Linked DNA regions of Homo sapiens: region 2 is linked to region 1. Evidence: fine-mapped expression QTL. A gene starts in region 1. The other region holds a variant in brackets. All regions are shown on one strand. Distances are from middle to middle.

The links. PIP is the estimated chance that this variant, and not a neighbour inherited with it, causes the effect.
Region 2: its variant is the best candidate, but not a certain one, in a credible set for the expression of BRAT1 in whole blood (INTERVAL, PIP 0.57).

The regions. Positions count from the first base shown.
Region 1 is chr7:2,553,017-2,557,392 of GRCh38, reverse strand. It overlaps BRAT1 (BRCA1 associated ATM activator 1), which reads left to right and starts at 1,869. Exons shown (of 14, transcript NM_152743.4): 1 at 1,869-1,906; 2 at 2,946-3,088. The coding sequence starts at 2,962. RefSeq lists an enhancer at 1,285-1,962 and a silencer at 1,875-2,114.
Region 2 is chr7:2,507,187-2,511,562 of GRCh38, reverse strand. It overlaps LOC107986759 (a long non-coding RNA gene), which reads left to right and starts at 2,492. Exons shown (of 3, transcript XR_001745066.2): 1 at 2,492-2,833; 2 at 3,446-3,558; 3 at 3,939-4,376. RefSeq lists silencers at 130-179, 3,274-3,427 and enhancers at 3,073-3,600, 2,947-3,802. The variant C/G (reference allele first, on the strand shown) is at 1,633.

The DNA.
Region 1 (4,376 bases):
TTCCTCATCTGATGGGCTGGTAGTGGTACTCTCCTACCGTTGCTGTAGAATCATACAAGTTTACAGTAAGTGAAGCACTTAGCACAGTGCTGTTGTTGAGTTTTCTTTACTCCACAATTACCTAACTGGGTGAATGTTAGTATCTCATTTCACAATGAGGAACCAAATTTCAGGGAAGATAACTGTGCATTTCAAACTTTTTCACACATGTAGTTCTAAGGATGTACGTGTGTGTGTGTGTGCAGGGGGCATGCAAGCGTCAGGGAAGTTGCTTTTCCAAGGTTACCCAGCACGGCTGGGCGCGTTGGCTCACGCTGGTAGTCCCAGCACTTTGGGAGGCCTAGGTGGGCGGATCACCTAAAGTCAGGAGTTCGAGACCAGCCTGGCCAACATGGTGAAACCCCGTCTCTACTAAAAATACAAAATTAGCTGGGCGTGGTGGCCCGCACCTGTAATCCCAGCTACTCGGGAGGCTGAGGCAGGAGAATCGCTTGAACCCAGGAGGTGGAGGTTGCAGTGAGTCAAGATTGAGCCATTGCACTCCAGTCTGGGCAAAAAGAGTGACACTCCGTCTCCATAAATAAATAAATAAAATAAAGGTGACCCAGCAAAGTCAGTGCTTTTAAATTTTTAAATTTTAATATCCATAGGAATTCTGCTTTGTTTCCTAAATCTGGTGTTGGCTCCCAACAATCTTGCTATAAAACAATGCTTTGGGAACATGAGCCTTGTCTATCCACTGGCTTTGAGACTCTCGAACACACAGTTAGTGTTTTGAACTCAATTTTTTGGACCTAGTTTTTCTGCCTGTTTGCTTTCTTAAAACACAGGGTCTTGCTCTGTTGCCCAGGCTGGAGTGCCGGGGCAGGATCATAGCTCACTGCAGCCTTGAACTTCTGGGCTCAAGCGATCCTCCCGCCTCAGCCTCTGGAGTAGCTGGGACCACAGGCGCATGCTACCAGGTCTGGCTGATTTTCTTTTTTTTTTTTTGAGACGGAGTCTCGCCCTGTAGCCCAGGCTGGAGTGCAGTGGCACCATCTTGGCTCACTGCAACTTCCGCCTCCCAGGTTCAAGAGATTCTCCTGCCTCAGTCTCCCGAGTACTTGGGATTACAGGCGCGCGCCTCCACGTCCGGCTAATTTTGATATCTTAGAGATACAAAAATTAGAGACGAGACGGGATTTCGCCATGTTGGCCAGGCTGGTCTCGAACTCCTGACCTCGTGATCCGCCCGCCTGGGCCTCCCAGAGCGCTGGGATTACAGGCGTGAGCCACCACGCCTGGCCTTTTTTTTTTTTTTTTTTTTTTTTTTTAAATTTTAAGAGATGGGGTCTCGCTTTGTTGCCTAGGCTGGTCTCAACTCCTGGCTTCAAGCAATCCTCCCAACTGCGCCTCCTAAAGGGCTGGAATTACAGGCATGAGCCACAGCGCGGCCGCGGAGGACTTAATTTGAGAACCTGAAGCTAAATGACCAAGGGCTTTGGTGCACGGATCAGGACGCTTCTCTCCGGCACATAGTTTTCTCGCTCCCGCCGGTGCAGACACTGGGCGCCCTGCAGGCGAAGCCCCGCCCCTCCGGACACAACCCCGCGCCTTCCTCAGAGATCCCCGCCCTCGAGACGCCCCGCCCACCCACCGGATGCTCGGCATGAACCACTAGGCGCCTGGCGGGGGTGATCTGTCGGAGCGACCGGCTTGGCGCCTGCCTGTCCCCAGCCCCTCTCAGCTTGAACTCCTTCCTTCAAGTCTGGGCCCTCGAGGCTTCCAGAGCGGCCTCCAGGGGTGCAGTCTCAGTTCCCCACGCCAGCCGTCTCCGTCCTCCGCCTCCTCCGGGCCTGGCAGGTGGCACTGTCCGGAGGCGGAGCCTTGGGCGAGGGGTGGTTGCGGCGGAGGACGCAACCGAGCGGTGAGGCGCGTGGGCCTTCGGGGGTCGAGGTCGTGGTAGTGGGGCGCGGGGAGGCCAAGACCCGGCCGAGGGGGGCGGGCGGGCCAGGGAGCAGCCCAGCCCGGGGCGTGCGCGACCTGGGCTCGCTTCCCAGCCCGACTGTGGCCGCCTGCTCTGGCGCCCCTTCTGGACTCTCGGGCCTGGCGCTCGCGGCCAAAACTGACTTCAAAGTGTGGGGAGGGTTCCTCTTCCCGGGACGCAGCCTTCCCGGGCATTGGCAGACGGTGCCCCGGTTAGACAGAGCCGCTGACCACCCCGCCCACCCCCGAGGCTGGACGCACGGATGCACACCTGGTCCTGGGAGAGACAGGCGCCCCTTCCTTTCCGCACCCCGCCGCCCCCCTCTCCCCCCCGCCGGCTTCAGATGCAGCCACCACTAATCCTGGGAGGGACAGACACACGGACAGGTGCCCCTTCCCCTCCTCACCCTCCTACTGGCTGCAGAACAGCAAATGCAGCCACCACTGACCCTGAGAGGGACAGACACACGGACAGGCGCCCCTTCCCCTCCGCACCCCCCTGCTGGCTTCAGGACGTCAAATGCAGCCACCACTTGACGCTGGGAGGGACAGAAACTTTCCAGCCCAGGCTGGCCCTGGGGCATGGGTAGACATCCCCTTGCACACATGGCTGACCCCGGAACTCAAAGATGCCCCTGACTCTGGCCCACCTGCAGCCTGGGCCAGCACCACGCTGTTGCCCCGACTGCACCAAAGACCAAGGGTGACAGACTTTGAGTTCCGGAGGCCTTGTGGTTTCAGCTAGACCCTCATCTGCCCCTTTCAGCCCCGCCACCAGCGCTCAGGGCCCCACCTAGACCAAAGCTTTGCATCCATCCCTGCAGTACAGACCTCTGGTCTGGGGATCATGGTTCTCCTGGTCTGAGATGAAAGTTCTGGGGCCCCTTCCCAGGCCTGAGCAGGCATGGTGGGCTGCTGTGACTAGAGCGAGCTGGGTCTGGAGTGGGCATTGAGGTTTGGCTCTCACATTGCCTTTGCAGGGCCTGCGGCCTCACCATGGACCCAGAATGCGCCCAGCTGCTCCCGGCTCTCTGTGCTGTTCTGGTAGATCCCAGGCAGCCGGTGGCAGATGACACCTGTTTGGAGAAGCTCCTGGACTGGTTTAAAACGGTCACTGAAGGAGGTAAGGAGGTGGTGCTGCTGTTTACTGCCTATCCAGAGACCAGACGCAGAGGCTGGGACAGGGAGCAGGGGCCAGATGGGGACTCCCCTGTCCTGGAGGAAGGGCAGAAACTGCCAATCAGATGTCTTTCCTTCACTTCCTAAGGATTATCTGTGGCAGACTGAGGGCAAGTTAAGATGAAGCCCGAGAGAATGATCTGGAGAGTTAGAGCCTGAAATTCAGCCAGTTGAGCCACGATCAGGGCACCCCAAGGTTCAGTTCTACAGAAGGCGTGAACAAACTTGTTTTATTGTTGTTCTCGTTGTATTTAGTGTGTTTAAGACATCAGATTTGTTTTCTTTCTGATTATGAAAGTAGGGGCCGGATGCAGTGGCTCATACCTGTAATCCCAGCACTTTGGGAGGCTGAGGCGAGCGGATTGCTTAAGTCCAGGAGTTCAAGACCAGCCTGGTCCAACATAGCGAGACGTCATCTCTAAAAAAAAAAAAAACAAAAATTAGCTGTGCCTGGTGGCGCACCTGTAGTCCCAGCTACTCTGGAGGCTGAGATGGGAGGATCCTTTGAGTCCGGGAGGTAGAGGTTGCAGTGAGCTATGATTGTGCCACTGCACCCTGACCTGGGTGATAGAGTGAGACCCTGTCTCAAAAAAAAAAAACAAAGTAATACATGTTCTTTAAAACATGAACAAAAGAGTAAAGAGGAAAATTAAACCATCAACGTTTTAATTTACTCCCAGCCTTTTCATAACACATAAAGCTGTATTTTTCTGGGGAAAAAAAAATGAGGTCATACTGTAAACACAATTTTGGTGTCTTGCTTTCTCTCTTGCTATCATAGTGAGTGTTTTCTCCACATAATATGTTAATGTTATTGACTACATGTTATTTGCTGTAGGAATAGACCATAATTAATTGAATCACTCCACTGTCAGATGTTTATATTTCTCATTTTTCATCATTTTAAGTAGTGTCATAGGTCAGGCGCGGTGACTCATGCTTGTAATCCCATCACTTTGGGAGGCCAAGGCGGGTAGGTCACTTGAAGTCAGGAGTTCGAAACCAGCCTGGCCAACATGGTGAGACCTCGTCTCTACTAAAAATAAAAAAATTAGCCGGGCATGGTGGCATGCGCCGTAATCCCAGCTACTTGGGAGACTGAGGGGGAGGATCGCTTGAACCCAGGAAGCGGAGGTTGCAGTGAGCCCAGATCGTGCCACTGCACTCCAGCGACAGAATGGACTCTGTCTCAAAAAAATAGTGTCAGTCGAGCGCGGTGGCTCAAGCCTGTA
Region 2 (4,376 bases), 46 kb after region 1:
CCTGGTCCCTCCTCCTCTCCCCACGCTGGGGGGCTCCCCGACAGACCCTGCCCTCAAATACAGCTGCTCCCATCACCTGCCACAGCCCCCCAGGCTGCACCTCGGGGAGACGGTACCCCGCTTGCTCTGCAAGCTGCAGGGAGGCCTGGTGCCAGAGTGAGGCAGGAGGCTGGAGGGGGCTCCGGGGTCACAGGCCGGGCCGGGTGTGACTCTTGGCCTCATTTTGCAAATGAGGAAGCTGAGCCCAGAGAGGGAAGTGAGCTGGTTTGGGTCCCACAGGGTGGGGTGAGGGTGGTCTGCCTGGATGCCCCCACCCCAGGTCTCTAACACTCTTGGGAGTGGCTCTGTCCACCATCACCACTGTCCAACCCGCACAGCAACCCCCGTGCCTGGCCTCCCCGTCCCTGGGGTACCCAGGAGGTCGGACCCAGCTGGGGCTCAGCAGGGCTCAGCAGGGCTGTGGTGCCGTGAACCCTCTGGCAGCGGGCGGACATTATACATCCACCCACTGCCAGAGGAAGCTGCGGAGACGGGCAGGGTGATATGCCAGGTGGCCCCGGCAGCCTCTGAGGTCATTCTGGGCGGGCACTTCACCCAACAGCAACGTCAGGCCCCTTAAGAGCCTGGCGGTCCCTTATCTTCTCCCCGGTGGCTGACTCAGTAGGACCAGGGATCTCCGGGCAGGGCTGAGGGCCGCCCACCCCTAGGTCACCTCGGGGAGCCCACGTGCGTCTCCAGACCTCGGCCTTCCTGCATCTCAGTTCCATGCCCACTGCTTGTCCTGAGCTGGAGCTGGGTGGGAGCTGGCTCTGAGGGCTGTCCCCATATCTTAGAGATGGGGCTCGGCTCTGCCACCCTCCCTTGGCTCCCCACTGCCCAGTTGGGAGGGCTGGCTCTGCCCCTGGCGTCCTCAGGCCACCCCCTGGCCCACTCTGCCTGCCGAACCCCCCAGGCCCTGCCAGGCCCAGGATCCCCACACTCCAGCCGCCCCTCTGTGTCTGCCTGGAGTGCTCAGCGTCTCCACCCCTGTGGGAAGTCTCCTCGCTGCTCCCTCCTCCACTCTACCTGTTGTCTGTTCCTGGGTCCCGTCCAGCCCTCAGCACAGCCCGGCACCCACAGAGTACTCAGTCCAGATGCCGACGCAATGGAGCTGAGCTTCCTGGACTTGGCTCTTGCCAGAAGACTTGGAAGAAGGGACCTTGAAGAGCATCTAGGTCCAAGTCCCATTTCACAGATGGGAAGATGGAGGCCCCAGAAGGCCTCCCAGGCCCACATGGCCAGCAGCAGGTGTCTCCAGCCACCCTTGAAAGTGAACCCCTCAGGCTCACACCTCCGGGTGCCTCCCATATGCCAGGAAGTCCCAAAGTTCTGAGGCGCTGAGGCTCCAAGACTTCCCCTGGGCGGGGTCTTTGGTGGTGCCAGGGGGTGAAGGTGAACCTTCAGGCATGGCGGTCTTTTGGCCAGGCCTGCTTCTCCCTGCAACCCCTCGGAAAGCCCTGCCAGGCTGGGAAACTGAGCAAAAGCTGGACATGCCCAGGCCAAGGGGTGGGCAGCTGGCTGGCCTGCCTCAGCAGGGTGGGGCCTGGGGACCAGTCCAGGCCTGTCCCCAACAACCTGGCCTATGGCGTCTCT[C/G]TGGGTGGAGAGTCCCCTGTCCTGGCTGTGTCTCCAGCCTCAGGTGGGGTCCTAGCTGTTTCTTTCTGGTCTCAGCTGCGCCCCCCACTCCAGCCTCCACCCCACTCCCTGCAAACCGGCAGTCACTTGAGCCCTCCTCGGGGCTCTGAGCCCCCCTCGGGCAGATCTTCAGGCCTGGGGCATCCCCAGAGGCTGGGCTGTGCCCAGTGGTGGCCGCCCCTCCCTCCTGTCTCATCCCCACCTGCCATGGCTGTCACTCTATCTCAGCGACCCAGTTTTCCTCCTTGTCTCTGTTGGTGGGGCGGGCGGCCCTGGGGGGACAGTGTCCCCCTTTGTGGCGGGGCGACCGGTGGATCAGGTGTCTCTGGTGGGGCCGGCAGGCGCGTCTGCTGGCTCGGGCCAGGGGCCACGGCTTTCAGGTCTTCAATAGCTCAAGATTAGGTTCCGTCCCTGAGGGCCCCTGTTGTGTGGCCATTGTGATGGCCTGGGAAGCACAGCCTCCGGGGCCAGAGAGTGATGCGTCTCCCTACTCACGGGAGCCCTGGCCTGGGGGCTGGGGTCCCGGCCTCCTCCGGGCCGTTTGGGCACCCTGCAAGTCATGTAGAAGTGTGCACATACAGCCACAGCCAGCACAGGGTCTTGGGGAAGTGTGGACCCCGCCTGCCAGATGCTCCGCTTACTGCCTGGGCCACTGCTTGGAAAGAGGTACTGCTTCTTCACAACCCGATGAGCGGAGCACGGGCTGGATCTCAGATGTGTGCTGCCAGTCAGTGCACGACCTGCACGGATGTGCACAGCGGCCCTGACACTGCCCCGGCCCCTCCCACCTTTCTCGAGAGTTTCTTCAGCTTCGCCACTCCCCTCAGCTGCATCCTCCCACAGGCCCCCACTCAGATTGCAGGGCTGGTCCTCAGCCGCTGGCTGGCAGCTGACAAAACCACAGGCCAATCCCCGCTGGCAGGATGGGGACAGGCTGACAATTCCAGGTCCTAACTGCACGGTCTTGCATTTCCTTCTCTGAAGACTCAGGTGTGGAATGAGCGGGGCTGTGGGTGCAGCGTGGGCGAGACTCCTCTCAGCCTCCCTGGGCCTGATCAAGGTCACCGACCCCCAGCTGTAGTCCCCAAGACTGGCTCCTGATGGCTTTTGTGCCCCGCTCAGCAAAAGCCCAGCTGGGATCCTCTTGGTGGCCCAGACAGAGGTGACCACATAGTATATCGTCTTTCAAGGCTGGGAGGGAACTCTGTTAGTAATTACTCCTGGGGCATACCAGGGCTGTGGCAGGAAACGGAGTATGTCACCGACAGAGACGCAGATTCCCTGGCAGGATGCATGCCGGCCGGCACATGCCTCGGAGCGCGAGAGGGGCCTGTGATCGTGCGGTGCTTACGTGCTTCACGCGTGTGTGCGGAAGCACGGGTGAGCCCGTGGGGAGCATGGCGCGCTGCCACTCTGCACATGTGGGCTGGCCATGTGCAGGGACACGTGTGTCCCTGTGTGCACACACCCAGAGCCCGACCCGGCTGCCCCGAGATGGCTCCCTCCCCTTGTACAGCTGGAGACTCCGGAAGGAGGAGGCGGGTCGGGCTGGCCTCCTGCTTGATGGGGGTAAGACGAACAGGCCAAGGTGGGAGGCCAGGGCCAGGCCTCGCTCGGGCTGGGGCATGGCCCTAACACATGTTTTCTGCCCAGCGTAGTGGCGGCAACCTTGGACAGGAGGTTGGGCCCCATCAGGAAGGTTTTGCTTCAAGAAGTGGGGTCAGCTTCCCCAGTGTTTGCATTCATCCTAACATGTGACTGCCTCTTCCTCCAGGCAGCCTTCCGTGACTTCTGCTGTCATCCCAGTGGCCTCTGTCTCCAGAGCAGGTGGAGCAAGGAGGCTGTCTACTTGCTCCCTGGACCCAGCGGACATATTCCCAGAGACAGGTAGGGTCTGCTTAGGGGCACACAGCCAGCTCTGGCAGGATGGGGCTAGACCCCAAGGAGGGCCCCTCCCAGGTCAGGGCACTTGTGACTATGGCTGCCCTGAAATCCTCTTGGGGCTTCTTGCCGGAGGGCCACTCTGGGCCCCACTGAGCTTTGCTTTAGGAGCAGAGGGCATTTGGGCTGGGTGTGTCCTCCAAGAGCCAGGCCTGGTGACTCCTCTAGGCATGGGGCAGAGGCTGGGGGCTGAGAGGCAGCTGCTGCTGAGGCCTTTGGTAGAGGGAGGCCGGCATCGGGCAAACGGATGGGCCATTCAGGCAGGAGAATCTTCAGGGTCACCCTGGCCAGCCCCGCGCAGCCACCGAACTCTCCCTTTCCTGTAGCTGGAAATATCATTGTGATGTCGGACACTGGAGATGGGACAGGAGCCACACAGACCCAGCTTTGCCCTCCGGAACTCACAGCATCCCAGCGGCCGGCAGGGAGAGAGAGGGCCAGCAAACAACTCCGCGAGGGGGTCCCGCGATAACATGCGAGAAGTGGGTGGAGAACGCCGGGCAAGCCTGGGTAGCCGAGGAGGGACAGACAAGCAGGTGCATGGGCCGAGACATGGAGGGTACCTGGGGACACCATCCTGGGGCAGGAAACGGCAGGTGCAAAGGCCCCGGGGCCGGCTGAGCTGCTGGCTCCCTCGCTCAGGGAGCATCTGAGCAGCACCTCCCAGAAGCCAGGGCTGTGCTCGTGTGCATGGGCCAAGCTTCAGAGAGAACTCGGGGGGCTCCCAGGTCTGAGGGGGGTGGGGGCCAGGGCTGGGCAGTGCA